Regions from separate parts of the Homo sapiens genome. Here region 1 is linked to region 2. Evidence: fine-mapped expression QTL. A gene starts in region 2. The other region holds a variant in brackets. All regions are shown on one strand. Distances are between the middles of the regions.

The links. PIP is the estimated chance that this variant, and not a neighbour inherited with it, causes the effect.
Region 1: its variant is fine-mapped to the expression of CEP72 in whole blood (TOPMed, PIP above 0.99). The same link has a PIP of 0.9 or more in testis.

The regions. Positions count from the first base shown.
Region 1 is chr5:656,293-671,625 of GRCh38, forward strand. TPPP (tubulin polymerization promoting protein) reads right to left here. Exons shown (of 4, transcript NM_007030.3): 3 at 9,678-9,831; 4 at 3,570-9,004. The coding sequence ends at 8,810. It also overlaps a transcript of CEP72 not described here. Among named protein-coding and RNA genes, the nearest start is that of TPPP, 29 kb to the right of the region's middle. RefSeq lists enhancers at 6,121-6,290, 7,592-7,761, 9,179-9,348, 12,759-13,513, 14,802-14,971. The variant T/C (reference allele first, on the strand shown) is at 6,499.
Region 2 is chr5:604,521-619,853 of GRCh38, forward strand. CEP72 (centrosomal protein 72) reads left to right here and starts at 7,820. Exons shown (of 12, transcript NM_018140.4): 1 at 7,820-7,923; 2 at 14,470-14,597. The coding sequence starts at 7,842. CEP72-DT (CEP72 divergent transcript) reads right to left here and starts at 7,690. Exons shown (of 3, transcript NR_103444.1): 1 at 7,632-7,690; 2 at 6,927-7,233. LOC105374608 (a long non-coding RNA gene) reads left to right here. Exons shown (of 8, transcript XR_007058672.1): 4 at 1-120; 5 at 625-695; 6 at 1,293-1,340; 7 at 1,559-1,773; 8 at 2,545-3,090. RefSeq lists enhancers at 6,743-7,673, 7,674-8,603, 14,056-15,255.

The DNA.
Region 1 (15,333 bases), 52 kb after region 2:
TGTGTTTCATACATTTTAGAACTAGCCGGTCGAGTTGGGATTTTGTTTGGGATTGTGTTGAACCTGTAGATCAACTTGGGAATCATTGACGTACTTGCAGTACTGGGTTTTACAAGCTCTGAACATGGTATCTGTCTCTCCAAATGTTAGGGCTCCTTCAGCGGGTGTTCATACAGCCTGATACTTTTCACAGTGGTCTTGTATGTCTTTTGTTACATTTAATCCTAGGTCCTTGTTATTTTGCGATGCTGTTTTTAAAAATGTGCTTGGATTTCATTTTCCTAATTATGTGTTGCCATTTCATGGAAATTCATTTTTGTGTATTAATTTGTATCCGGCAGTCTAGTAATTTTAATCATTTGCCTGTAGCTGTTTCCTCATTTTTAGGCACACAGTCATGTTTTCTATGAGTAATGGGTTTTCTTTCCCATTCCTGTTGTTCTGGATTTTTACTTTATGTTTTTATTTTTGTTTTGTTTTTTGCTTTTCTACACTGGTCGGAACCCCTAGTGCAGTGCTGATTAGAGGTGGTAACAGAGTGGGCATCGTTGTCTTCTTCCTGATATTCAAAGGGGTGATAAATTCTCACCATTTATCCACTCACTTGTAATGGATTTTTTTTGCTTGTTTTAAAGCTTCTTCTATCAATAATTCGCCTCAAGAATGGATGACTTTTATCACTTTTTCTGCAGTGATGGAGATGACCATGATTTTTATCATTTAATATATTGATGTGTTTAACGACCATAATTTGCTTTTGTTAAAAATAAACCTTGAATTTCTGAGATAAGTCCAACTTAATAATTATGGATTTTCTTTTACATACATATTGTTATATTTGGTTTGTTAATATTTTGTTTAGCATTTTGTGGCCCAGCTATACTACCTAGCACCTGTGTTTGGGCCCTGATTTCCTCGTCTGTACAATGGGGAAATAGTGGCTTCCTCACAGGATTGTTGTGAAGGTGAAATGAGTTAGTATGAATAAGACTCTCGGGCAGCATCTGGTGCGTCCTGAGCACTGGGTAGCTGCGTGCTCTAGTACAGTGGTTAGTATCTCTCTTCACGGGTGACAGCCACTTACGATTTTCCTTTGTAATGCTGTTCTTGAAAGGATTCGCATCTTTACACCACCGTAAAATGAGCTAGGTTGTGTATTCTTTCTCCATTCTCTAGGAGAATTTACTTAAGATTATAATTATTTCTTCCATGGATGTTTGATGGAACTTGCTGGTGAAGTCACTTGTGCCTGGAACTTTCTTTGTCAGGAGGTTTGACTACTGATCCAGTATAACTCAGTGTTCCAGGATGTGGCAGAACCGTTCACACAGACCATCCTTATGTCCCCCCTGCCTTTACGCTGCATATCCCTGAGTTGGGCTGGGGCCGTGTGACTACTGAGCAACAGCCTGTGTGTGGGACTGAGGTGAGTCATTTCAGGGCCAGAGCAGCGGGAGCTGGTGCGTCACTGTGATAGCTTCCCTGCCAGTGACCTGGGCAGCTGCATCACAGGATTAGGAAGTCTGTTTGTCTTCTGTTAGAAGAGATCTCTTGTTATTCCTGAAGTTGGACGTTGTGTGAGTAATACATTTTGTGTGTCCAGCCACTGAAGTGTTAGGGGTTTTCTTTTGTAGCTGGCAGTGACTTCCCCTAAGTCACAGGGCTGAGCAGGCTTTCCATTTCTTTTCGAGTTAGTTTTTGTAAGTTATGTGTCTCTAAGAATTGGTCCATATTGTCTTAATTTTCCATTTTGGGGGGTATAACACACATAATTTGAATGGCTTCAACATTTGAAGTTGTGTGTGTCCCTGTGGCAGAGATGTAGGGACAGTTGTGTCCCTTCAAGCGAGACCTTGCCATCCAGGGGCAGGGAGTACAGGGGTAGAGACCATCTCCAGCCACCATGCTGTCAGGCTGTGCCTGGGCTCTGGAGCTGAGGACACACTCATCCAGGCAGCTGCAGCCAGTGTCCAAGCAGGCAGGGCCTGGGCCTAATGCGAACCACAGGGAGCTCCCTAGCAGGTCATCTCCAGAGCCTCCCTGAGGCCTCCCGGCCTCCTCCCCTTGCTGCTGTTCAGGGGCATTCCTCACCAGTGAGCCTCTTGTGATACAAAGGCCACCTCAGCATCTGCCTCCCGGGGACTCAGCCCATTCTTGGCCATTCTTCATATTCGTTATTTGAACTTTCTCTTCAGTCCTTTCAAAGAAACACCCTTTGCCTCCATTTTCTTTTCAATTTCTGATCTGATCTATCATTAGCCATGCTGAAATTACAAATAAATATGGGTTAAAATATTATTTTATCAATTTCCCTGTTCTGTGTTTCTTTCTCTTGTTTTATCAGCAAAGCTGATTTTTTTTTTTTTTTTTTTTTTTTTTTTTTTTTTTTTTTTTGAGATGGAGTCTCGCTCTATTGCCCAGGCTGGAGTGCAGTGGCGTGATCTCGGCTCACTGCAAGCTCCGCCTCCCGGGTTCACGCCATTCTCCTGCCTCAGCCTCCCGAGTAGCTGGGACTACAGGCGCCCGCCACCACGCCTGGCTAATTTTTTGTATTTTTAGCAGAGACAGGGTTTCACTGTGTTAGCCAGGATGGTCTCAATCTCCTGACCTTGTGATCTGCCCGCCTCGGCCTCCCAAAGTGCTGGGACTACAGGTGTGAGCCACCGCGCCCGGCCTCAGCGAAGCTGATTGATCCACCATCTCATTAGTTTAAATCTGCCATCTCATTTTGTGCTGTTTGTTCTATTCATGGTTTTTTCCCTCTTCACTTTTGCCACTTTTGGATGATCTCCTGTCATCCCGCATGTCCCTCTGCTCGTTTGGAGACTGTACTCTGCTTCTGTCCCATGCTTATGGCATGTGTGCGTTTAGTCCATGCTCTCACCCACCTCTGGGGTTGGTTCCTGGAGCGCGAGGCGCGCGTCCCTCTCCATGCTCCTGTTCTGCTCACCTGTGGGGGTTCCCAAGTATTTTTATGAAACATTTTAATCTCACAAAGTATTGATATAGCCACTGTTAATTTGGAGTTATTGACCTATTTATTCTCTTTGCTCCACTTTCTTCACAAACCAGACATGCCATTTGAGATCACCTTTGCTTTCTGCATTTAGAATTTCTTTAAATGTCTGCTGGTGGCAAATTCTCTTTTCATTGTCCAAAAATGCCTTTATTGTATCCTCATTTTGGAAAACTGTTTCGCTGGGCTAGTATCTCAGGTTGGCATTTTTTTTATAGCAGCCTGTGATGACATTGTCCTGTTTTGGGGGCTCTGGTGGTGTTCACAGTGTTCATGTCCATTCCCCTTGAATCTAGACCCCACCCAGGGCTACACCAGTGCTAGAGCAGGACTCACACCTGACAGATGGCTGGTCCGCCTGCTCCTCCTTCACGGTCCTCCTGTCTAGATGAGGAAGCGAGAGACTCCCTCGGGAAAAGGCGACACAAGGGCCTTGGCCCTGTGAGCTTCAGCCCAGTGGAGGCACTCAGCACACTCCCCACCTGGGGCCCCTCCAGTACCTATCCCCTGTTATCACCTGTTACAGACACGTGTGCTCTGAGGAACAGAGAAATCCATGTTTTAACACCTTTATTTGTCACTTTACCAACTTGACACACAATGTTAACGACAGCAGACACAGGAGCAGTGTGCACACAGACACGAGCTGTTTCACTACAGGTTTGCAAGCCAGGCTCAACAGCAAGTCCAACAGGCAACACCACACCTCTCACCTGCAGGAGGAACAGCAGGGCCACCCCACCCCGCGGACGTCCGCGGTGAGTGCGGTTTAGACATCAGCAGAAGTGGCTTTCAGAGTCAGAACAGCCATGACGTGGACATCACCCGTCACACTGATAAAGTGATGCACTCAGTACTCCCTAATGTTAATCACACAGTGTAAAAATATATTGCACATATATATATATATATATATATATAAATTTGTTTCCCTTTCTTGAAAAAAACTTAGTACAAACTAGTAGTTACACGATCCCTTTCAAGTTTCTCTTAAGTTGTGCAGATTTCCTTTGTGGTTTGGCTTGGTTTAGTTTTTTAAGAGGTCGAAAGAAAGAAGTAAAGCATCTCGATGTGCCCAGGACTCCCCATCACATGCCCAGGGACAAACGCTGCACCCTGGACCACCAGAGCTCACAAAGTGTTCAGTAGTAAGAGGAGGAAAGATGCAGGTTCAGTGTTTGAAGGACGTTCTAGCCTATTGATAACATCACGGTCCAGCCTCATCTTCCCCCTGTGCCATCCCCTCGTGGTGTGTGCTGTGGGGTGGGAGGGTGGCCAGTGCACGCGTGATTGCCCACAGGAGGAGATGAGCTGGGCCAGTAGAGGGACAGGTAAGTGTCCAGGGCCAAGGCATCTCCATCTCAACTCCTCCCCACTCCACTTGTACAGCAGGAGCCACAGGCCTGTGTGAAAACACAGGACAGGCCCTGTGCCAACAAAACACCATTCACAAAAGCAGGCGGCCGCAGCAGCCCAGGATGGGGGCTGGGGTAGGAGGTGATGCCCACGCAGGGCTGCTGTGGTCAGCCCTGAGCTGGCATCCCTGGGGCCCGGGATGGAGTGGCACCAACAGGCAAGTGGGGCGGCCACAGGACATGATGCCAGCCCAACTCCACCATCTGCGCCCAAACTTGGACAGGATATTAGAAGGTGTAAAAGTAGTCCAGTATAAATATATATCTTCTACAATATTTTAAACATATAATTTGAACTTTAATTTTGGTAACGCTAATTGTTAGGAACACTACCTGGTTGCTTATCCTATAGCAGTAAATTAAAAATAAATAAGCACTCTGGCGTGAACAGTCTTCTCAGCGCTCTCCCTCTGCCTTTCTCCTTTCCTGATGCTGAGACACGATCAGCACTGTCCTCCCGACAGAACCTATTCCTGTGTCCTGGTGTCACCCCCAACAGAACCTGTCCCTCTCTCCTGGTGTCACCCCTGACAGAACCTGTCCCTCTCTCCTGGTGTCACCCCCGACAGAACCTGTCCCTGTCTCCTCTTGTCACCCCCAACAGAACCTGTCCCTCTCTCCTGGTGTCACCCATGATAGAACCTGTCCCTGTGTCCTCGTGTCACCCATGACAGAACCTGTCCCTGTGTCCTGGTGTCACCCCCGACAGAACCTGTCCCTGTGTCCTGGTGTCACCCCTGACAGAACCTGTCCCTCTCTCCTGGTTTGCAGGTTGTGCAGTTTGTTATTCACAAATACACATTTATTTTCTGTTGAACCGTGGTTAGTAGAAGCTAATTGGCAGTGCATAAAAACATGCAGAAGAGAACACACACCTGCCTGAATTCACAATATTCAGAAACTGACTGAGGAAGATGCACGGGTCTGTTATGTGCAGTGGGGCTGCCGTCCAAACAATGTTCTGTGTTCGGAGGCGGCACACAGATGCAATTACGGATTCCACAGACAAGTTGTAACTGACAGTGGTGACCACTATGTCCTCGTGACTTTATTTTTGCTACCCCTCCTGGCTAGGTGACAGAGATGGGAGCCGAGTGGGTGTTTTCAAAGATTCGCTTTGGAGCTGAGTGGAGAAGGGTGCTCTCCTGGCTCCCGCATGTCTGAGAAAAGCCTGAGGGCCGCTGGGGGAGGGCGTGCCTCTAACTCGTGGGCACCAACCCTGGAAGTGTGGAGGGAGAGTGGGGGCGTGGGGCCTCTCCCTCCAGGATCCCAGGGTGCTCCAGGCCAGGACGGGCAGGGTGCCACAGCAGCCTCGATCTCATTCACGAAACCCACAGGCGTGGCCTAGGGTTTGGGATGCACGCCACGATTTTCTCTCTCAGAGTGAAGGGACCACTTCTGTGAATGAGCTCACCTCCAGGGGCCAAGATGGGAGCCATGAGCCCCGCCGCTCCGGCCACTCCAGCCAGGTCTGGGAAGGGCTGTGGTGAGTCGGTGCTGGCCGTGTGGGCGAGGTGACCCGTCGGTGACAGGGCCTGCTCCCTGCGAGGTCGGGTGGTGCCCGGGCCGGGCGGAGGCTCTTCTCGTGCTCAGGGCCGGTTTCTGGTGTGCTCCCGATGCGCTTGGCTCTTTTCTCGAGGCCGTGCTTGTCTGAGGCCAACCAGGGACCAGGAGGCAGCGTCCTGGTGCCCAGCACCTCTCCTCAGTGTCCCTCGTCCCCACAGACCGGATCAGGGCCTGGCGAGCCTCTGTGCCTGCCGTGCGGTGTGAGGACCCGCGGACCCCAACCCGCCCTTCCCTCCGTCCTGACCCGGCGCCAGGCTCAGCTCCAGGGCGAGGTCCTCTGGAGTCATGTTCGTTCTGCGTGGCTTGGCCGTGACTGTGGGGACTGGGCTGCCCACGGACAGAAAGGAGAAACGCAGCCTGTGACCAGGAGACGCAGCCCAGGGTGGAGCCGCGCTGGGGCCAGGGAGGCCGAGGAGGGCAGGAGTCCGAGGGTGTAAGGGTGCCAGGGCCTTCCGGGTCTCAGGCTTCGGGACCTGGGGAGCCACCCTGTTTGGTGACCAC[T/C]CGTCCTCGGCCTTTTCAACACAAGGGCTTTGGAGTTGTGATGGGCTGTTATCGGGTGATTCCGGTGGCCACTCGTCTGTGATCGGGTGATTCCGATGACTGCTCGTCTGTGATCGGGCGATTCTGGTGACCGCTCGTCTGTGATCGGGTGAGTCCGATGACTGCTCGTCTGTGATCGGGTGATTCCGATGACTGCTCGTCTGTGATCGGGCGAGTCTGGTGACCGCTCGTCTGTGATCGGGTGAGTCCGATGACTGCTCGTCTGTGATCGGGTGATTCCGATGACTGCTTGTCTGTGATTGGGCGATTCCGGTGGCCGCTCGTCTGTGATCGGGCGATTCCGGTGACCGCTCGTCTGTGATCGGGTGAGTCCGATGACTGCTCGTCTGTGACCGGGCGATTCCGGTGACCGCTCGTCTGTGATCGGGTGATTCCGAACCGCACATTCAGAGTTGTTTTCAAATGTTTCCGCACGTTAGTTCTGCCTTTCACACGCGGTCCAGCCAGGTTCAGCGGGGGCACAGGGCTGGGCTTGGGCACCCCCCGCCTTCCCCAGGCCGGTGAGGTGACATCCTAAAGGAGCCACGAAGCCTGAGGTCCATTTTTCCTTGCTCTTTATTTCCAGGCACTGAACTTCCCAGCCCTGCCGTGGAAGCTGCCTGCCAGGTCCTCCCCATCCTCAGGTGGAGGCTTCTCTGTTGAGGGGCCTCGGAGACCGCCCCCCAGCCCTCAGCGGACCATGCTGGCTGGGAGCTCCGCCCTGGGGCTTCTGCTCTGCTCAGGTAGGGGGAGTCCTTCCACGGAGCTGTGGCCGCAGCAGGTGCACTCTTGGGAGTCGGGGAGGCGGGTGGTGCTCATGCGTGCCAGTGAGGGAGGGGCCTCGCCACCCTCCTGTACTGTGAGCCTGGCCCTGGGCAGCCCTCTGCCCTGGCCAGAGCCTGACCGTAGCCACGGGCTAACAGGCTCTGGAAAAGTTTCCCCAGGACTGCCGCAGGCTCATCCGCAGGTAGACTCCAGAACCACGGCCCAGCAGGTCACACGTGTGGCTGTGGCTGTGTGCGTGCCAAGGGACAGTGGCAGTGTGCCATTGTGACAGCGGGTGGCCACACCCGTCAGCCTCCCCAGGAGGGAGCAGGAGCGCCGGCTTCTCCCCAGGTGCAGACAGGCAAGGGCGGGCCGCCTGGGTGTGTCCTGGCAGTGTGGAGTGTCCTGGATGGGCTCTGCTCAGCCCCCTGCTGGCAGAGAAACCCCCACAGACACTGCAGGACTGGGGGTCCTCCCTAGTGTCCTGCTCTCCGGCGGGGGGGATTGGCCAGGAGAGGTTAGGCTGAGCCATTTTGGGAGAGTTGAAGAAGGTGCTTGGGCTGTGGCAATGGGAGGTCTGCGAGCAAACAGGGTGCAGCTAGTGAGGACGGGCGAACGGGAGGGCCGGGCAGAGGCTCTGTCACGCGGTGAGGCGAGGAGTGTCTCGGCACTTCGTGTCTCTTGCCTGGCAACACCACAGGGACCGGACATTCTGAATCTTCCCAGACCCGCTCTGAGAACATAGGCAGCCACCGCATCTTCTCAGGAAAGCAAAGCGAGCCTACTCTACCCTCACAGTCCAAGCCACTGTGGTCAGCCGGGAAGCCGCCCACTGCCCCTGACGGCTTTCGTTTTACCTAGGTTGCCCTTGGCACAGAGCTGGCCTGTAGGCATGTGTGCACAGGTGTGTCCATGTGACCGGCTTCCCCACACATGTGCCAGGCGCCCAGCACCCCCGCCAGGTGGCCTCACTCTGCCCTCTGCCCAGGAAAGCAGGAAGGCCCCGTGGTGTCCGCTGCACACAGGACAGGCCTCGGGCCCCACAGACACCTCCCACGTCCGGTGTGGGGCCAATTCCGTGTTAGTTGCCTGCTGGTTGGGGTTAGCTCCTGCCACCCTCAGGGCTCCTGGAAGGTGTCTGCCGCTCAGGAGGTCAGCACAGCCTCCTGTTGCCATGACAGCCAGCTGCTTTAAAACGCCCCTTTGACCTGCAAACCACGTGCCCAGTGTGGTGTGATCCGCGAGACACTTTGGAAATGGCTGAGGACGAGGCAGGTGTATTAGGAGGGTCAGCGAACTGGGGCCCAAACCTGGTTTGAGAGGGGAGTGCTGGGGGCATCCGGTAGGAGGAGGGGCAGGAGGGAGGCCTGGGCCTGGCCGCCCCCCAGCCCCCTCTGGGGCACCCGTCTGAGTTCTGCCCCAGTTAGTACAGGAATGTAATGAAGTGCGAGGTGACAGAGTCCCTGCTCTGGGGACACCGGCAGTGCCGCGAGGCATGGAGCGGGGGCTACTTGCCCCCTTGCACCTTCTGGTCGTAGGTGCCTGCGTGCTTGTAGCCGGACACATAGCCTGACTCGTCCACCAGATCCACGCGGCCAGCCTTGCCCTTGCCCTTGCCAGAGGGGTCGAAGCGCTCCTTGTGGGAGCCCGTGAACTTGGTGGTGTCCGTGAGCCTCGACACTGTGGGCGACGAGATGGCTTTCTGCAAGAGGAGCAGGAGGAAGGGGGCAGGTGAGTTGCGAGCCAGGTGAGGCCAGCAAGTGAAATGGCTGTGCCCTGGGCAGGTCTCCCAGCGGTGGGGCACTGGGCAAGGGGCATAAACCCTGGGATTTATGCCCCTTTTAATTCTTATTTTTACCTCTCCTGACCCTGGGGCAGCCTTGGGCCTGCGGGGTGCCACAACCCTAACAATTGCCCAGGTCCACCTGGTGTTTATGTAGTTGGGGACCCCACCACCTGCACCCTCAGAGGGAAGGGGCTGTCAGAACAGCCAGGCCCCACCCTCCAGGCTATGCCCCCCCAATCCATGCCCCTTCAGACCAAGCCTCCCCAGGACCCCCCCAGGCCACGCCGACCTGGCCATGCCTCCCAGGACCCACCCACCCCCTCCCAGGCCAACTCCCAGTCCATGCCCTTCCTGACCACGCCTCCCCAGGCCTCACCCTCCAGGCTATGCCCCATTCATGCCCCTTCTGACCACACCTCCTCAGACCCCACACCAGGCCACGCCCTCCTGACCACGCCTCCCAGGACCCCCCCCAGGTCACGCCCCCAATCCATGTCCCTCCTGACCACCCCTCCCCCAGGCACCACCCACCTTCCAGGCCCCGCCCCCACCCCCTCCAGGCCCCGCCTTCCATCCCCGCCCTGCTCACCGTCACCCCTGAGATGATGGGCGCCTTGCCCTCGATGAGCCTGTGCACCTCGCGAACGGCCTCCTCGCTGCTCTTGTCTTTGAATCGCTTCTTGGCGAGCTCCTCCAGCGCCTCCTGGAACTGCTCAAAGGTGATGGTCCGGCAAGACTTCCCTCTACAGGGGCACAGGCGACTTAGGGCTGGGCGCGGGCCGGCCCAGGGCTGCCCTCCCCACGCGTGGGTCTGAGCAGAGCTGGACAGCCATGGCCCAGCAGCCCACAGGCTTCACCCACAGGCGGCCGCCCTGGTAGCACTGCAAATCCAAACTGTCTTGGAAGAAAGCTTGGCGGAAGCAGGTCCTCTATAAAGCTGGATGCTCACACGGCCCTGCAGGCCGCTCTGACACAGGGTGTGTGCGGGTCTGCACTCTGCTGGGGCAGTGCCGGAGGCCATTAGGCAGCGGAGCCCACCTCCTCCTCCCGGGGCCACCACAGCCCCGCCCAGCTGCGCCGGGAGCTGGGGGTCCTAGGACCTGCTGGGGCCCCGGCTCTGCCTGTGTGTGTTGGGGTCCTAGGTGGAGGTGTCCCCCACACAGGAACATGGTTAGGAGGGGCTGCCGCCCCCGGACACTTGGCAGCATGGGCGCAGGCCCACGCCTCAGATGCCCTGGCTCCAAAACCCGCCAGGCGGCCCCGCTGTGCCCTTGCACTGCTCTGGCCTCAGAGGTGCAGAGCCCGGTGGGCCGGAGGTGCCATGAGAAGCTTCTGGTCACACAACACGCCACATCTAAACACAGTCCACGCCTTACAACATCCTCCCACCACAGGCCATTCAGGCAATTTTAGAGGGTTCTAAACTGACTCTTGGTTTTTATATAATAATTCTAATTAGAAAACATTTTTCTCCTCTGACCAGATCTACCACAACTAACCCAAAGTGGGGTTTTTCAGTGTTTAAAACAAGAGATCCTGTGGATGAGGCTCAGCTCTGCAAAAGGCACCTGCATTTCACCAGGGAAGCCTCTGGACAGCGCGAGAAAGGCTGCACCCAGCAGGCCAAGCATTCCGAGGGCACTCCCAGCTGCAGAATCCACAGTGACCAAGAGTCAGGGGACAAATGACCCATAAAACCCCAGCAAGCCTTTCCAGAAGTCAGTGAGCAGAGGGCCTAGAATAGCCAAAACGATTTCAAGAAATGAGAACAGAGTCAGAAGACTGACTACCCAACTCCAAAGCTCATCGAGGCTTGACTGCAAAGTGGCAGCGACGTGGGCACGGGCACGCGGCCAGCCCCGCAGCCCAGGGGGAGTCTGGCTCAGCCACATGCATGCTGCCCCCCCGATGTCTACAGGTGCAGAGGCAAGCCAGAGAGAAAGGACTGTTTCTTCCACAAGTGGAGCTGGAGCAACTGGTGATCCCTGTGCAAATTAAAATGCACTTTGGTCTATACTGCACACTATATACAAAACTAACTCAAAATAGATGACGGTCCTAATTATGAAACTAAAACTTCTAGAAGAACACCAAAGAGAAGATCTCTGTGACCTGGGGTTAGGCGAAGATTTCTTAGAAATGGCAACAAAACATGGCCTATAGTGGAAAAAATGGATGAACTAGACTTCATCAAAACGTTCGAAACTCTGCTCTCAGAAGACACCGTTAAGGGAATGAGAAGACAAGCCACAGACTAGGAGACATGCCTGAGAAAGGACTTGTCTCTGAGATACACAAAGGAACCTTAAAACTCAGCAGTAAGAAAAAAAATCCATGTGAAAAGACGGGCAGAATATTTGAAGCAGACACCACCAGAGAAGACACGTGCATGCAGACAAGCACACGGAGAGGGGTCCGCGTGGGCCCCATCAGGGAAGTACAGACAAGCACACGGAGAGGGGTCCGCGTGGGCGCCGTCAGGGAAGTACCGACAAGCACACAGAGAGGGGGCCGTGTGGGCGCCGTCAGGGAAGTACCGACAAGCACACAGAGAGGGGGCCGTGTGGGCGCCGTCAGGGAAGTGCGGACAAGCACACAGAGAGGGGGCCGTGTGGGCGCCGTCAGGGAAGTACCGACAAGCACACAGAGAGGGGGCCGTGTGGGCGCCGTCAGGGAAGTACCGACAAGCACACTGGAGAGGGGTCCGCGTGGGCCCCATCAGGGAAGTACCGACAAGCACACGGAGAGGGGTCCGCGTGGGCCCCGTCAGGGAAGTACCGACAAGCACACGGAGAGGGGTCCGCGTGGGCGCCGTCAGGGAAGTACCGACAAGCACACAGAGAGGGGGCCGTGTGGGCGCCGTCAGGGAAGTGCGGACAAGCACACGGAGAGGGGTCCGCGTGGGCGCCGTCAGGGAAGTACCGACAAGCACACAGAGAGGGGGCCGTGTGGGCGCCGTCAGGGAAGTGCGGACAAGCACACTGGAGAGGGGTCCGCGTGGGCCTCGTCAGGGAAGTACCGACAAGCACACAGAGAGGGGGCCGCGTGGGCGCCGTCAGGGAAGTGCGGACAAGCACACGGAGAGGGGGCCGCGTGGGCGCCGTCAGGGAAGTGCAGATGGAAACCACAGCGAGGCCCCTGCACACTCTCCAGGGGGCTCAGACAATCAAATAAACTGCCGGCACCTCGAGCTGAGCAGGCCGCGGGGTGGGGGCCTCGTCCACACCCGGCCGAGCAACGCGGCAGAGCCACTGTGGACAGCTTCTCATCACAGCCAAAGGTGGCCCAGCAGTCCCGTTCCTGGGTCCTTGCTCAAGAGAAATGAAAACAGAGGCTCACACATAAACGCAAATGTTTACCACTGTTCTGCTCGTAGTCACCAAACCCCAAACAATCCAGTGCCCTTCAGCAGCGGCCAGACCACAGTGCTGTGATGTGTGCGCACGTGGACAGCACCCCCACCCCTCGAGAACAAGCCCAGGATACGCACCCAACGCGGTGGGTGCCAAGTGGCCAGGCTTGGAGCCAGGCACGGAGGTGCCGCTGGGTGATTCCCAGACCCCAAGGCGGATGCTGTGTTTAAACAGCACCTGAGGGTTCCCATACACTTTACACGCGTGTCCTAAAGACACAACAGACACCATCAACAGCGCTGAGCCAAAGAAGAAATCGCGCTGAGAAACACACCAAGTGCTCGGGGTCCCACAGCTCAGACCCTCACGCCTCATGGGGTCCCAGGGAGGGGAGCGGAGGCCTCGCTGTGTCCGGAGGGGGCTTTGGGGAGACAGAGCCCCAGGGCGGGGCCTGGACTGCTGAGGGCAGCCACGCAGGGCACATTCCAGACCCGCCGGCCATAGGGCGCTGTTGTCCAGCAGCATCCCCCAGGGGGCGCTGGTGAGCCCGGTGAGCCGGAGGTGCCCTGGGCAGCTCTGTGGCGTGGGGGTCCGCGGTGTTGGGGGTGGATTTAGCCCCTTGACGCGCTCGGCGTGGACACCCGCACGTTCCCTGTGGTGCTAGAAGAGCCAGGCCACCCCAGGCAGCCCACAGTGCCTGGAACTGACAGTGCCCATTGGGCCCTGTGGGGGTGTTGACTCTCTGGGGCCCTTGGGGCCTCTGTCTGTCCTGGGCCGTCAAAGGCTCTCCTGTCTTCTATTCCCACCCTGCCCAAGCTGACATGCGGACGCCAGGCCTGACTGCCAGCCTGGTGACCAGTGCTGAGGCACGCAGCCCTTTCTGACGGCCTCGGAGCCAGGCACCACCAGCATGAGTCACTCGGCGGGAGGGGGATGGCTGAGGGGCTCCCCCATCAGAGGCGACATTCAGATCCGGACACCTGCTCTGCGCGCTCCCCGAGTGTCTCGGGGAAAGGGCGCCCGGGTCTCTGCCCCACACGGGCGGGGAGCTCTCCCCAGGAGACCCGGGTGCCCCCCGCCTGGGGCAGTCCTCAGGAGTTCTAGGACAGCGGTGCCTGCCTCTTCCCCAGAGACACTCAGTCTGGCTGCCCGGCTCTCCTGACATAGAGTGGGCCTGTCCTCCAGAGACCAGGGTGCTGGAGGAGCCTCCGAGTGTGGAGCTCGGCATCCTCATTGCCCATGCTCTCCCCAGCCCGGCGCCCTGCCCCAAAGCCGGCCCAGCAGGACGCAGCCGCTGCTCATACACGATGCCCTGCGGGGCCTGGACTTGCTTCCCAGGCTCTGAGTCCCCTGGCCTCTGGGCCTGGTTCAGTCTCTCAGGGACACTGGGACCCGGCCTGGGGCCTCCAGGAGCTGGGCTCAGGCCAGGACAGCCCTCCGAGGACTGAGGCCTGTTCCTCCGGGGCGGACGTCACAGGCCCCGCTGGGCTCGGGACTGTGCATCCAGCACCCTTGTGAATCAGGAATGCCCTCCCATGGTGCCCTCTCTGAGGGGCGGGGGCCGGCGGGCGAGGTGACAGCTACCAGCTCCCCTGGGCTCTCTGGGCCTGCAGCTGCTGTGGCTGGAGTGCCCTGTCCAGAGGCTGCCACAGGTGGGAAGCTGGGGGCTGTGGAGGGGAATCTCTGGGGAAACAGCCTCTCCCTGTACTTAGGCGAGTCTGAGAGAGAGGGGCTGCGGCTCCCCCAGGGCACCAACCTCTGGGATCTTCCATTAGCCCCTGAGACCTGAGGAGGCTGGGAAGGACTCCCTGGCTGCTGGGCCCCACGGGGGGAGGGGGAGCTTCTGGGGAGGTTCCTACCTGGTAGGGACGCGGCCTTAGGGGAGCCCTGTCTGGCATCGCCATCCTGCACGTCGCTCCGAGTTCTCACTGCTCCAGGAGGGTCCAGTGGTCCCGTTCCAGCAGGACCCAGCCTTGGGGTTCCCCATGCCTGTTGGCCGCCCCTGCCTCCCGCAAGCCCCAGCAAGATACAGAGGACCTAGAGCAACGTTTCCCGGGGCCGACAGAGGTCGGTGGCAAGCCCTCCAGGCCCTGCCTATTCTCCCCTCATAAGTGACTCCACCAGCAGCTGAGCACCTGGGGGCAGGTGAGGTGATGTCTGGCCACCTGAGAGGGCTTCTCCCCTCATCTCAGGAAACCGGAGCCCTTCCTGCACCCTACTTGGCTCAGAGGATGGATGGCAACGTCCACTGGGCCACGGCAGCTCAGGCCCCAGGGCGGGCTGAGGGCCAGGGCCCTCCCATTGCTGCACCAGCTCTAACCCCAGGCACACCCACCATGAAGCCCCCACACAGCCGGTCGGGGGGCTGCCTGAGCTCCGGAGGTCTGGCTACCGAAGGCTCCCCCCTGCCTGAGGGGCCGCCTGGGATCAGCGCACTGTCTCCCTCTGGGCGCACACCCTGCGCTTGCTGCTAATTAATTTTGCGTTGCTGCCGGCCTTTTCGTTTTCCTGGGGAGGGGCGGGGGTGGGGCGTGTGTAGTCACCGCCCTGTGGACATCACTAGGAAGAGGTGGCCCTTGGTGGGACGTGGACTTGGGGCCCAGAGGGACCCCGGGCAGATCTGAGGGGCCCGACCTTCTCTAGGGGGCCCCAGGGGCTCGGCTGCCTCCATCCACCCCAGTCTCGGCCTGGGCAGGGCTTTGGTCTGTGCACCTGAAGTCAGTTTCTGGCTGTTTGTTTGGAGATCACCTTCTCAAATGACCTGTGTTGCCTGGTCAGGCTCATGGGGCAAAGTGGACAGCCAAGGCCACGCCCACCACTGGCCAAGCGCAGGAGACGGGTGCCTGTCGCCGCACAGTGCTCTGGGGATTGCTGGTGCTGCCCGGCCTGCAG
Region 2 (15,333 bases):
CGACAGAGAGGCTGTGATGCTGAGCCCCGGCCTCATGCAACAAAGCTTTGCCCGACGGAATGCACCCAGCGGCAGTGGAGAGCAGTGCTGGATCCTGCGGGGTTGAGGCGGTGGAGCTTGGTCAGCATGGGGTGCAGGGGCAGGAGGGGGGACGTGGCCAGGGGCCAGGGGCCCGGGAGCAGTCAGGGCTGGTCGGCTGACCAGAGGCTCAAGGAGAAGGTGAGCTTTGAGTGATGGTCACTGGGCCATATGGGGTGGGGCAGCTCTGGCTCTGAGAGAACTCCTGCTTGGAGGAGGCCTTGGGCTTCCTGAGGCTGGTGGCCCCCAGGCCACACTCTGCCCTGGCCCTAAGGGACTCTGAGCTCTGGGCTCCCCGAAGCCTCAGAGATGAGGAGCAAGCAGCTGCAGGTCCCCAAGCCATAGTGGGGGAAGCCTGGGACTTTGCAGGGGATGCCAGGTTATATCTGATGCTGGCCCCTGGTCCTGATCAGCCTGCTTTTAACAGCAGATGGCGGAAAGAGAGGCAGAGGTGGTGTACTAGGCTGTTCTTGCATTGCTATAAAGAAAACCTGAGACTGGGTAATTTATAAAGAAAAGAGGGTTAATTGGCTCATGGTTTTGTAGGCCGTACATGAAGTGTAGTGCCAGGATCTGCTTCTGATGAGGCCTCAGGAAGCTTCCAGTTGTGGTGGAAGGTAAAGGGGGAGCAGATACATGACACTTTAAGAGGGGGGCAAGTCAGAGGGAGGAGGCACCTCACATTGTGAGAGGAGAGCAAGTCAGAGGGAGGAGGCACCTCACATTGTGAGAGGAGAGCAAGTCAGAGGGGGAGGCGCCTCACATTGTGAGAGGAGAGCAAGCCAGAGGGGGGAGGCGCCTCACATTGTGAGAGGAGAGCAAGCCAGAGGGGGGAGGCGCCTCACATTGTGAGAGGAGAGCAAGCCAGAGCGGGGAGGCGCCTCACATTGTGAGAGGAGAGCAAGCCAGAGGGGGGAGGTGCCTCACATTGTGAGAGGAGAGCAAGTCAGAGGGGGGAGGCGCTTCACATTGTGAGAGGAGAGCAAGCCAGAGGGGGGAGGCGCCTCACATTGTGAGAGGCGGGCTGTGAGAGAGGGGCAAGTCAGAGGGGGAGGCACCTCACATTGTGAGAGGGGGGCTGTGAGAGGGGGGCAAGTCAGAAGGGGGAGGCGCCTCACACTTTTTTTTTTTTTAATTGAGATGGAGTCTCACTCTGTCGCCCAGGCTGGAGTGCAGTGGCGTAATCTCAGCTCACTGCAACCTCTGTCTCCCAGGTTCAAGCAATTCTCCTGCCTCAGCCTCCCAAGCAGCTGGGATAACAGGTGCGCACCACCACACCCAGCTAATTATTTTTGTGTTTTTAGTAGAGACAGGGTTTCACCATGTTGGCCAGGCTGGTCTTGAACTCCTGACCTCAAGTGATCCACCCTCCTCAGTCACCCAAAGTGCTGGGATTACAGGTGTGAGCCACTGCGCCCAGCCACCACACACTTTTAAACTACCAGATCTACCAGAGTGAGAACTCACTTATCACCAACAGGATGACCCACGCCATTCAGGAAGGACCCACTCCTGTGATCCAAACACCTCCTACCAGCCCCCACCTCCAGCACTGGTGATTACATTTCAACATGAGATCTGTGGGGACAAACATCTAAACCATATCGAGTGGGCTCAGGAGGCAGCAGCCCTGGAAGATGCCGAGTGCCTGGGAGGACAGAGGAAGATGCCGGAGTTCACGGGTGCCATGTGCAGGTGCAGCTCCTGCCAGGCGGCTGAAGATGGGGCTCCAGGTGGTGGCAGTGCCCCAGCCCCACCAGTCCTTCCTGGGGAGAGGGTCACGGCTCAGTGGCTGAAGGGCTGGGGGGCTTGTCTGAAAGGAGTGAATGCCTGCCCATCAGGCACTTTCGGAAAAAGCTGGAAACCAAGATTTCCCTGAGAAGTCCTGGGCTTTCTGGTGTTGGGAACTATAGGAAGCAGCCGGCTTCTGCTTCCCCTCCAGGGTCCAGGAGAGAATTTGTTTTGGACAAACCTTCTAGGCCACATGCTTGGAGCACCTCTGACCTCACCCAGTGCCATGCCCCCCAGCTGAGGCCCGGCCCCTGCATGTGTTCAGGGATGTGAGGTCAGGGAGTGGTTCAGGGATGTGAGGCCTAGCACTGGTCCGCAGGCCTCTGGGAGCCCTCTGGGCCCCTTGCAGAGCGGGGCAGCACTTGGCTGAGGACTGCGAGGGCTGAGCTGTCCTGACCCAGTCCTGGGATAGCAGAGCCGCCCACCCTGCCTGGGGGCTCCTGGGTGTCTCCTGCAGCCACGCCACTTGTAGCTGGGTTCTGTCCTGGGACAGCAGAGACACCCAGCCTGTCTCAGGTCTCCAGGGCGTCTCCTGCAGCCACGCCACTTGTAGCTGGGCTCTGTGCTTGTTGTCAGTGCAGCCCCAGCAGCCCAGAGCGGTTCACAAGCTCCCAGACCGATTTACCTGCTCCAGTGAAACTCCTATGAGGGCACTGAAACTTCCCATTATTACAGGGCTCCGGCCCACAGCCATGGGGATGCCCCTTCCCACACCAGCTCCTGCAACTGGAAGGCTGTGGGCCACTCACTCTGAAGCCTCCCCTTTCCAGACACAAGGGCAGGAGTCAAGGGCAGTGGCAACATCCCCCAGAGATGCCGATGGACGGTGTTTCAACCTAAATCGGACAGCCGCACTCCCTCCCTGGCCACACAGCAGGACAGAGACCAGGACACAGCGGCCCACCCGCTGCCCTCACACTCCCCTCCTCCACGGTGTGAACTAAACCGCACACGTGGCCTGTTACTCGGACAAGGTGGGAAGGTGTGGCCCCACCCCCTCCTAAGACATTACGATGCGGAGAACCCCCAAGCCCACCCTCAACTGTGTTCACTGGAAACAGCCCAGCAAGGGCTACGTGTGCCTTCCGGTTTCACATTTGGGAAGTGGGTAAAATGCAGTATTGACAGTTCTCAAATATTGGTGTTGATCTTAACTGCTAGAGATACCGTGAGGGAAAAGAGCGCTTTTGTTCAACGTTTATGAATGGATAAAGGAGGAACTGAAACCAGCAAAGGGGCGGCTGGCCCTGGACCAGACGCGGCTTCGCCGAGGAGCTGTGGGCAGGGTGGGCCGGCACCTCCTTTCCTCTCGAGAAGGATGTGGAGAGCAGGTGGCTCGTGCCACCTGCCTCCCTGGCCCTCGTCCATGCCTCTGCACTGACCGCTGGGCTCCTGCCGCCCGGGGATGTGGGGAAAGGCCTTGGAGTGGGATGGAGGTCCGCGTGTGGGTGTGTGGCAGGTACCGGTGGATTGAGGTCCATGTGTGGGTGTGAACCTGGGTGTGAGACTGTGTGTGGGTGGGTGTGTACGTGAGTGTGCATGTGCACGTACACCTGTGTATGTATGCGTGTGAGGTGTGTGAACTGTGAGTGTGCTGTGGCTGTGAGCGTGTGCACACGTGAACTGAGCGTGACAGTGCGAATGTGTGTGCCGCGAATTCCACTGGCCACATGAATGCAGGCGAGGCCGCTCCGCTAGGCTGTGGATTTCCAGCATGGCCACGCTGGTTGCCTGTGTTGTCTTGTTGACACAGGATGGAGAAAGAACGATGCAGGATGCATCTCTGAGCCTGGCTCAGGCACCCAGAGGGAGCTGGGTTTGGGAGCAGCTGCTCTGCGTAGCCCTGGCTTGGATGCTGCGAGCCAGGTGGGCCTGGGGTGAGCGCTCGTCCCTGGGGTGGGTGGAGGCCCCCATTTCCCTCTCAAGTCCCCTCACTGTACATCACAGCCTCCTCCCACCCCCGCTCTGTTTAGAGAAAGCCCAGAGGCCCCTCAGGCTGAACCTCCAGCCCTCTTCTCTGACCATGTGGGTCTCCCTGTTTCCTTCCGCTGGCCTGGTCTCTGTAGGGCTCACTGAGCCTGCAGTCTGGGACCCACAGGCTTGAGGATTGAGGCTCGGGGCCTGGGAGCCTCCCTGGGATGTTCTAGAAAGCTATGGATGGGGCACCTGTCAGGGAGACAGCACACGGAGAGCCTCTCCCACCTGGGTCCTACCATAGCGGCCTGGGCCTGTGGGCTTAAAGAGCCGCTCCGGAATTTAACTGGGCCTGAGGGCTGGTGCCCTGTGAGGAACCCGGGATAGAACCTGGGGACAGAGGCCTCCATTAGTCCTTGGGAGCGGCAGGTAGCCCATGGGGTCACTGTGATCCCGGCACATTGTGGGAGCGTGCGCTGGGATGGGGAGGGGTCACTGTGAGCACGGTGCGTCGTGGGAGCGTGCGCTGGGATGGGGAGGGGTCATCGTGATGATGGCACAGCACACTCTCCTGTGGTCTAGGTTTAGGGATGCCAGTGAGACCCGCTGAAGCGTTGGGGCCCTACCCGAGGTGAGGCGTGCCCAGGTCTGGGGACTCCTGTCTTGGGGCCCCTCCCAGGAGAACCACCCCCCTCCTCTGGCAGGAAGCCCCCAAAGCTGTGGAGGAGCCCTGGGCCCACAGACAGCATCCCTGCTGCTGGGGACCCCAGGCCTGTGCGGGTGCCGCTGCCATGGGGCTGATGGGGCCCAGCCCAGCAGCCCCTGCCTTTGCTTTCCCGGCTTCTCTGCGGCTCTGTGCTTTTGCTGCCCCATTCCAGGCCGGAAGGCTCCCGCGCCTCCATGGATCTTCATGATTTGGCCAACCAGAGTGAGCACCGTGAGGAAGTGGAGACAGACACAACTTTCAGCAGCAGAAGACAGGATAATAAAGTTGGGTTTGGTTTATGATCTAACGTGACCATTAAAAGTGTTTAATAAACAACGTTAAAGACTACTTAGTGGCAGATGCATCCGGCAATGCTTAGCATAGCCTCATGACTGTCAATACGCACAGGCTTGAAAAACACCTGCAGGATACATGTGGGCATGTTAGTGTGGGTTATCTCAGCAGGGCGGCATATCGAATCTCGGTGCCCTTCTGTAGTGTCTATATTTTCTACAGTGAAGCTGGGATACTTTGGTGAGCAGAGGCATTGTTTTCAAAGTTCCCATTGGTACTTCCATCACATCCCCGTGTGGTTCTGTCCTGGACCGGCTGCCCACTGAGGTCCCACTCGCCCCTACCCTGCCCTGTCTGGCCAGCTGGGTACCTGCCCAGGAGGAAGAGGCTCAGTGTTTGGGGCCTGTGTTATGCCCTGAAAAGCCACTGCTGTTGGGTGAGGGCCCATGAGGCCTTCAGTTTGCCATCGTCATGTGCTTCTGAAGAGCCAGGATGCTGTCCACTGTTTGTCTCCTGGCGGGACAGAATTCCACTCAGTGCATATCAGGGGCAGTGATGGGGCTGGGGGTGTGAGGGCTCAGCTGTGCCCTGAACTCCTTCACAGTCTTGCAGGAGGGGTCATGGAGCCATATCTGGGTTTGCAATTTTTGGAAAGTTACGTGACGATCTGCACTCAGGAATGCTGAGTGTTCGGCAGGCCCCATGAACAGTGATCAAATGTGACGCTGTGTGTCCCACAGCCTAAGGGCTGTGGCAGAGACCAGGAGGGCCATCAGCTCCCACAGCTTTCGAGTCCACCTCAGGGCTCCTCCTTGCTGACCTCCCTGGGTTGTCAGTGGAGACAGCCACCCTCCCACAGAGCACCTGCCTGAAATGGGCCAGGCCGCCCCTGTGCCCTGGCTCTTGCTGCACATGCTGAGGTCAGCACGGAGGCGCCCTCGGGCACCAGCATGCCCTCGGGTTTGCAGCTTGTCAAATATCCCATGAAGGCAACCTGACCAAATGTGCTCTAACACCACTGGACCAATGGAACGTCTTGGGCTGAACAGATGCAGCCTTGCATCCACCGCCTGCCACCACCCTCTGTGTACACCCCCTGCACACACCTCTGCACACACCCCCCCTGCACACTGTTGCACATACCCCCTGCACACAGCCTGTGTACACTCCCTGCACAGATCCCCTGCACACAACTCCCTCACACATCCTCTGCACAAACCCTGTGTATACCCCCTGCACACACCTCTACACATACCTTCACACACCATGTATACCTCCTGCACACACCTCTGCACACACCTCCTGCACACACCTTGTGTACACTCCCTGCACACTGTTGCACACACCCCCTGCACATAGCCTCTGCACACAGCCTGTGTACACTCCCTGCACAGATCCCCTGCACACACCTCCCACACACATCCTCTGCACAAACCCTGTGTATACCTCCTGCACACACATCTACACACACCTCCTGCACACACCTTGTGTACACCCCCTGCACACTGTTGCACACACCTCCTGCACACACCTCCTGCACACACTGTTGCACACACCCCCACACATAGCCCCTACACACACCTCTGCACATACTGTTGCACACACCCCCACACATAGCTCCTGCACACACCTCCTGCACACACCTCCTGCACACACTGTTGCACACACCCCCACACATAGACCCTGCACACACCTCCTGCACACACTGTTGCACACACCCCTTGCACATACACCCTGTATATACCCCCTGCATACTCCTTATGTACAGCACTGCACATACTCCCTGCAGAGACCCTGTGTGCATCCTCTGCACACACCCCTTCTGTATACTGTCTGCACACACCCCCTACATGTACACCCTCTGCACACTCCTCCTGCATACACCCCATGTACACCTTCTGCACACACTCCCTGAACACATTCTGAGTACACCTCCTGCACACCCCGTGTACAACCTCTGCACACACCCCCTACACACTCCCCTACACACTCCCCTACACCATCCACACACACTCCCTGCACACAGCCCCTGCACACATTCCCCATGTACACCCTCTGTCTGTGTATACCCTCGTCTACTACCACCATACGTACCCCCCACCACTACCCTGCCTTGTCTATCACCCCCCAGGCTGTGACATACCAGGGATGTTGCCAACGAGCTGGTCTAATCTGGGGTGAGGGTTTCTGGGTGCCCCTAGACACCAGGAGAAAGGCGGGGAGGGGACACCCCTGGGGGTCTGGATTCACTCCACCAGGCGCTGGGCCACAGTGGTACGGTGACACAGTAGATGTCTTGAGCAGGATTAAAGTCTTCCCAATAAACAGGCTGAACTCTGTCTTCCTTGAAAGCTCTGTAGAAGGACCTCACAAGGATAAACACAGCGAGACCCTCCAGGGCGCGGTCAGCCACGAGCCACAGTGCTGGGCCTGTGACATCTCTGGAGGTTCTGGGGTGGAGAAGGACCGGCCGTGGGGAGTGACTGGCTGGGGAGAAGCTCAGCTCCCGCCCACCTCTGGGAGGCCCGGGGCTGGACGGGAGGTGCAGCAGACAAGGCTCCGGGCGGGTGCTGGGGTGTCTGGAGGGGTCCCCGCGGGGGGGTCGGGTTGGGTGGGGAGTCTAGGTGAGTCGGGGGTCCCCGGGGGCGCTGGGTTCAGGGTGGGAGCGGAGTGTGGATGGGGCAGGGTCCCCATGCCCACCACCAGCCGCGATTCCACCGCGCCTACTCGGGGTTTCCCCGGGAGGACACCGCGTGTGTCAAGGGCCGGGGCCTAGAAGGCGGCCGCGCCCAGGGAAGCCTTGACAGGGAGCTATCTGGGGCGGGGGCTGGGGTCGCGTGGCCAGTACCTGGGAGAACCGCCATTCAGGAGAACCCCCCGCCAGGCTCTTGGTTCCGCCCACGCAGTCCCGCCCCCTCCCCCAGCCACGCCCCTCGCCCCGCCGCGCAGGCCCCGCCCCGTCCCGCCAGGCTCTCGGTTCTGCCGACGCAGGTCCCGCCCCTCTCGTAGCCTCGCCCCGCCCGCCGCGCAGGCGCCGTCCGAGGGCTCCGTTTGAAACATGGCGCGGGCTGGCCCTCGGCTGGTGCTGAGCGAGGAGGCGGTTCGGGCGAAGAGCGGCTTAGGGCCTCACCGCGACCTGGGTGCGCCGGAGGGCGGGCGGGGGTGCAAGCGTGAGGTGGCGGGGGGGTGGGTGCCGAGCTTCCCGGGGCGGCGGCGGACCGTGGGCAGGCGGGACCCGTCTACGCAGGCGCCGCGGGCGTCCGGAACGGTCGCGGGCGAGCGGGGCGCGCGTGTCCAGGTGAGCGACCCACCCCCCGTGCCCAGGTGCGGCCCCTGCCCGCGTTCGGGTCCCGGCGTCCCGGCCCCTGCCTGTCTATCGGGTCACTGGTTCCGTGACTGGGGGTTACATCCGCTGAGAAGAGGGAGCCGGCCTTGCTGTCCAGGAGCGCAGCCCGCCCTCCCGCTGGGGATCACCTCCCTGGTTCTCCTGGGCCCACTCTGTGGTGATTGTTGCGCTCGGCCTTCTTGAGGATGTTGGTGGCCGGTTTCCTTCTTTTTGGCTTATTTTTGTCTGGTTTTGGCGTCAAGGTGAAGCCGAGCTCATAAACTGCTGAGAAGTGTTGCCTTCTCTTATATTTAGAAGAGGTTCTGTAGAGTGTGTGCTCATTGTTTGAATGTTTCCTGGAATTTTCCAGTGAAACCATATGGACATGTCAATTTCTGTTTTTGAAGCTTTTAAATGACAAATTCTGTATCTCTGGTTGTTAGAGAACCGTTCATATTAGTTCACCGCGAGTCTTGGCTGTGTGGGGTTTTGTGGCATTGGCTTATTTGAGCTAACTTGTGGAGTGTGTGTGTTGAGTTGTTTCTGGTGTTCTGTTGTTAGCCTGTTAATGTCTGTGTGTGGTCTGCAGGTGTTACTGGACCAACAGGTTCAGTCAGGTGCTGTGGGGGCCACAGGCCAATACACTGAGACAGTGGGGTTTGCAGCAGAGAAAGAGTTTAAGGCTGGCAGGGGCCCAGCAGGGAGGTGGAAGGAGGCCTCAATCCATCTCCCCAAGGAGATCTGAGCGGTTTTTTTTTTTTAGACGGAGTCTCACTCTGTCGTCCAGGTTGGAGTGCAGTGGCACAATCTCAGCTCACTGCAACCTCCACCTCCCAGGTTCAAGTGATTCACTCAGCCTCCTGAGTAGCTGGGATTACAAGCACGCGCCACCATGCCCGGCTAATTTTTTATATTTTTAGTAGAGACGGGGTTTCACCATGTTGGCCAGGCTGGTCTTGAACTCCTGATCTCAGGTGATCCACCTGCCTTGGCCTCCCAAAGTGCTGGGATTACAGGCATGAGCCACCTACACCCAGCCTGAGCTGGGGGTTTTAGAGGAACAGGACTGTGAGGAGCTGGAAGATTGGTGTTGTCAGTTGGTGGAGGTAAGGGCCATGGAATTATCAGGGTGTGGAAACTGCATTCTTTGGTGAATCCGCTTGCGGGGCCCTTTAGACCAGCTGGCATCAGTCCCCAGGTCCTGAAAGAATATCTCAAATGGAAAACTTAACGGTTTATAATGTCCAGGTTATTATCTGTAGAGTGGTTAAGGGGAACTGTAACCTCGTGACAAAATCCAAGTGATCCTGAGGCAGTAGGCACCACAGGGCTCTGAGGAAGCAGGTGAGAGGGCAGCTGACCTCGGGACATGCCGAGTCCTCCCTTCTTCCCTGATTAGTGCTACAAGGTTTACAGGGATATCCCTTTTCTGTTCCTGATGTTGATAATCTGTGTATTCTTTCTTTTTTAGTCTTGCTAGAGGCTTGTGAATGTTATTGATAGTTTCAAAGAACCGACTTTGGGTTTGATTTTTCTCCAGTGTTTTTCTAGTTTCAAATTTCATTGATTTCTGCTTTTTTTTATTTCCTTCTTTCTGCTTGCTTTGCATTTATTTTATACTTTTCTAAATCCTTGAGGCAAAACTGTAGATTATTGATTTGAGACTTTCCTATTTTCTATTATAAACAGTGCCACAAGTTTCCCTGTAAGCACTGCTTTAGCTGTATCCACAAATTTTGTTATGTTGTATTTTAATTTTCATCCAGTTCAGCGTATTTTAAGAATTTCCCTCGATACTTCCTGTTTGACCTGTGAATTTTTTTTTTTTTTTTTTTTTTGAGGTGGAGTCTCGCTCTGTCACCCAGGCTGGAGTGCAGTGACGCAATCTTGGCTCATTGAAAGCTCTGCCTCCTGGGTTCATGCCATTCTCCTGCCTCAGCCTCCCGAGTAGCTGGAACTCCTGACCTCATGATCCGCCCACCTCGGCCTCCCAAAGTGCTGGGATTACAGGCATGATCCACCGCGCCCGGCCTGACCTGTGGATTTTTAAGGAGTATGTTTTTAACGTTCCATGTGTGGATATTTTCCTGTTATTTTTCTGTGTGATTCCATTATGGCCAGAACATAATCTGTATGATTTTAATTCTTTTAAATTTGTCAGGGTTTGTTTTATGATCCAGCATCTGGTCTATGTTGTTGAATGTTCCAGGTGCACTTGAGTGTGTGTGTATTCTGTTGTTGAGTGGAGTGTTATGTAAATACATAAATATCAATTAGATCCTGTTGGTTGGTGATATTGTTCAGTTCTTCTGTATCCTTGCTGATTTTCTGTCTAGTGACTCTATTAATGACTGAGAGAGGGGTCTGGAACCCTTAACTGTAATTGTGGATTTGTCTGTTTTTTTTTTCACTTTGTATGTTTTGAAGCTCTGTTTGTTGAATTACATAGCTAGGATTTTTATACCTTCTTAGTGGACTGACCCTTTTAGTATATGTAGTCTTCCTCTTTTTTTTTTTTTTTTTTGAGACAGAGTTTCCTTCTTGTCCCCCAGGCTGGAGTGCAGTGGCACGATCTTGGGTCACTGCAACCTCTGCCTCCCGGGTTCACATGATTCCTCTGCTTCAGCTTCCCGAGTAGCTGGGATTACAGGCGCCTGCCATCACGCCTGCCTAATTTTTGTATTTTTAGTAGAGACGGGGTTTCACCATGTTGGCCAGGCTAGTCTCGAACTCCTGACCTCAGGTGATCTCTGCTGGGCTCCCAAAGTGCTGGGATTACAAGTGTGAGCCACGGTGCCTGGGCCTTGTTCCTCTTTTTTCCTGGTAATTTTCTTTGTTGAGACATCTGTCTTATTTGATATTACTGTTGTTACGGTAGCTTCTTTTGATTGGTTTTTGCATGGCGTATCTTTTCCTATCCATTGCTTTGAACTTTTAACCTACCTGTATCTTTATATTTGAAATTAGTTTCCTGGTTCATTATTTTTATTCACTCTGCTAATCTCTGTCTTGTAGTAGTGTTTTAGGCCATTTACATTTAATCTAATTGTTAAATATTAGAACTTAAGTGTGCCATTTTATTGTTTTTTGATTGTTTCCTGTGTTTTTTCTTCTGTTTCCCTTTTCCTGCCTGCTGTGACTTACTCGAATATTTTTAGTATCTCATTTTGATTTATCTGTTATGTTTTGGTGTATATCTCCTTGTATGGTTTTCATAGTGGTGGCTATACAAATTACAATGTATTTATGTAATTCAACACAGTTTACTTGTACAGGTATTTTACTACTTCTAAGTGAAATATAGAAACTTTATCACCATTTAGGTCTCTATCCTCTCCCCTTTACAATTTAGTTGTCTTAAGTATTTCCTCTGCATACCTTGAGAACCGTATTAATATTATGATTTTTTTTAAATACCTAGCCTTTTCAGTAACTCAGGAGGAAACATATTTATCTGCATGTTTATCTGTTCTGTTATTTTTTCTTCATTCCACGATGCTCTAGGTTTCTTTCGTTTTTCCTTTATATTTGAAAAAATTTTTTCAGCAGTTGTCTTAGGGCAGGTCTGCTTGTGACAGATTCTCTTAGTTTTTCTCTACGGTTTTACAGTTTTCATCTGTCATCTCCATTTTGCTATTAAACTGCTCTTGTGATTTTTTGTTATTGTATTTTTCTTTGAAATTTCTATTTGTTTCTTCTTTATATCTCCTGTTTCTTTGCTAAGACTAGTTTTTCCTTTGTCTCAGGTGTTTGTAATTGCTCATTGAAGTATTTTTTATGACAGTCACTTTAAAATCCTTGTTAGACCTAAGTTCTGTGTTCTCTCTTGGTGGTATCTGTTGATTGACTGTGTTTTCTCATTCAAATTGCCATTTTTCTGGTTCTTGGTCATTTTTTATCATATTGTGGACATGCTGGGTATGATGTCATGAGACTCTGCTTCCTGTTTAAATCCCCTTACTTGAGAAGACTCCTCACTCGAGCCTGCTGGGTGCCACCTTGTTGCCGGGACAGTCATGGAGCTCCTGCCTCACCCACGGCCTCTGGCAGACCCTACTGGCTGGGAGAGTGAAGGGCACCACCTCGTTCTAGCCAGGCCGGGACAGCAGTCAGGATCCATTCTCACACCCCGGTGCTGGCTGCTGCGCAAGGCCAGGTGGACGAGGGGTGTGTGTGTGTGTGTGTGTATGTGTGTGTGTGTGTGCGCGCGAGTGGGGGTTTGCTTGCAGGAGGGCTGATGATGTGAAGAGAGTCTGTCCTGCAAGGCCCCTCCTGGTGCCAAGTGGACGAGGGGTGTGTGCGTGTGTGTATGTGTTGTTGTGTGTGTGGGTGGGGGTTTGCTTGCAGGAGGGCTGATGATGTGAACAGTGTGTGTGGTTGCAGGAGGGCTGATGATGTACAGAGAGTCTGTCCTGCCAGGCCCCTCCTGGTCCTTTGGCCATCGAGAGCAGGCTTACGGTTTTTGGTCTTTTTGTGTTTCTGGGCTGCCGACTTCTGTGGCACCCAGAGTGGGATGTGTAGTAAATAAGCATAAACAAAACCCCAGAGTCAAGCCAGGGACTCAGCGCTGGGTTCTCTCTCGAGTGCCGAGGCCCCTGGCTGGTTGGCTTCTGTTCCTTTCAGTCCCCCAATGCTTGTTCCGTATATTTTCCTCCAGGGCAGTGGGTCTAATATGCGGGAGGAGCAGGTTGAAATGTGTCCTCTCCATGTTGCCTGGAACTGGAAGAGCTCAAACCAAATTTTAAACTTAATCAGAACATATTCTGGTTGGGTGTGGTGGCTCATGCCTGTAGTCTTGGGAGGCCGAGGTGGATGGATCACCTGAGGTCAGGAGTTCGAGACCAGCCTGGCCAACATGGTCAGGAAACCACAAGACTGTCACGGAAACCCTTTTCTTTCAGTAACATGAGCCAAAGGTCACTGCACCTTGTCCCCTCCTGACCCTGTCCCGGTGGCAGGGTGTGGGGGACAATGAACTGCTTGTCTGTGTGCCTCCAAGTGGGGCAAAACCAGGCAGCATCCTGCTGTTTAGCTGCACCTGAGACGATGCCTGAGGGCTACCTGAGGAAACAGGGAAACGTGGGGTTTTAGCCGGATGTGGTGGCGTGTCCCTGTAATCCCAGCTACTCAGGAGACTGAGGCGGGAGAATCACTTGAACCTAGGAGGTGGAGGTTGCAGTGAGCCGAGATCGCACCACGGTACTCCAGCATGGGCAACAGAGTAAGACTCCATCTGAAAACAAAAACAAAAAAACCAAAACATATTCTAAAACATAAATGTTCCCAGGAAAGTATTGATGTATTCGGATCTAAACTGCCTTTTTGATTACGGAAACTTTCATCTTGTAATTAATGTTGATGTAGTGACTGCTTATGGGGTGCGTGGAGCTTGCACAGCCCGACCACAGTTGTAACAGGAGGACAGCAGACAGGTTACCCGACGAGTGGGTTTCAGATGGTGATGGCTGCAAGGGGTGACAGAATTGAGCAGCCAGAAGTGGAGGCGGGAGATGAAGTAGAGGGGTGTTCCTGGGGAGAGACGGTTTTGGAGGGAGAGGCAGTAAAGGTGGGAAGAAGCGTGTGGGCTTGGAGGTATTGTAGAGATAAACATAAGCCGAAACTTCAGGTACGTTCCTTGCTCGTCAGTGCTGATATTCCAACTCCAAAGGAGTTGCACTGAGTTCTAGGTGCCTCTTTCAGATTACGAGGATACATATCTCTCTGAGAAAAGCTGAAAATACAGAAATGTGTAAGAGGGAAAATAAAGGGATTTATTCCACAATAGGACACATGTGTTAAAGTTTGTCTTTCAATCTTTTTACATATACTGTTAGAGGAAGAAATGTTTTGAATGACCCTTGTCAGGCACAGTGAGGAAGGCTTTATTCAGAACCATTGAGGTGGGCCTGGGGCCACTGCGCTGGGATTTTGCAGTGGGGGAGAGAGATGGAGCTCAACTCCAAGTACAGCAGGGGCCGGGGGGAGTTTATAGCCTAGGGTCAGGGTGGGGGCAGTGGATGGAAAATGACTGAGAGGACACATGAGGAGTAAGGGGATTTGGGCTAAACCAACTGAACAGGATTATTGCGAAAGAGAGGCCAGGGTGAGCAGACACCACCTATGGGATCTGGGGATGAGGAACCTGAGCAGATACTGAGGGTGGGGGTTTTGGCCGCACTAAACTGGACTTTACAAGGAAGGGCACAGATGGCCGAGGAGAAGATTCAGGAGCCTGAGTAAAGTTGAATTAAACCAAGAATCTGTGTCAGTTTCTACTCCATATCCAACACCAAGAACTTGACCGTTATTATAATTGTTTTCAAAATAAAAGATTAAAATCTTACAATTTTTCTATTCTTAGCTGAGCTTCAGTCATTGTCTATTCCTGGAACTTACCAAGAGAAGATCACCCACCTGGGACATTCTCTGATGAGTTTAACAGGTCTGAAATCTTTGGATCTCTCGCGCAACTCCTTGGTTAGTCTGGAGGTAAGTTTTAGGTCTCTTTCTTAAAATTTATTGCTATCAACATCAGTGGAAAGTCCATTCACAGCAGAAACGGAGTCTGTTTTGTAACCCTCTGCTTACATCTGTATACGGTACACTTTGTGTTGCGTATTTTTGTGTTTACCGTGGGCTACATTTCATACACATCACGTTACGTTGTGTTGTCGCCCTCTGATGACGATGATTATATCTTTAAAGGAAATGAAATGAGACCCCAGAGACTTACTGAGTGGCAGTGCAGTGGGCCTGGGGCTGCCTCCTGGGCTCCTGGCAGGGTCACCCTGGAGAGAGATGCCTAGGTGGTGGTGAGGGGAGCTGTGCACAACTACCATGGCCTGATTGGCCCTGACAGAACCGTGGGATGCGCCTGCCCTGAGCCCGATGCCTGAGCATTATGGAGGCTGCGTCTGCATGGCCTGATTGGCCCGGACAGAACCGTGGGATGCGCCTGCCCTGAGCCTGGTGCCTGAGCATTATGGAGGCCACGTCTGACACCAGCTCGGGAGTCTGCTCCAAGTCAGATGCGGACCTAGCCCAGGCTACACCCAGTGCTGCCTCATCTTTCCCCGTTCCCAGGCCTCAGCTTTCTCATCTGTGAAGGGGGGGCTGATGGTTCTCACCCTGTAGGGCGGCGTGTGGATTAAATGAAATTGTGCGTGCACATCACTCAGCTTGCTGCACGCTGAGGCCTCGGTAGATATTAGCTGTGCTTAGTTGC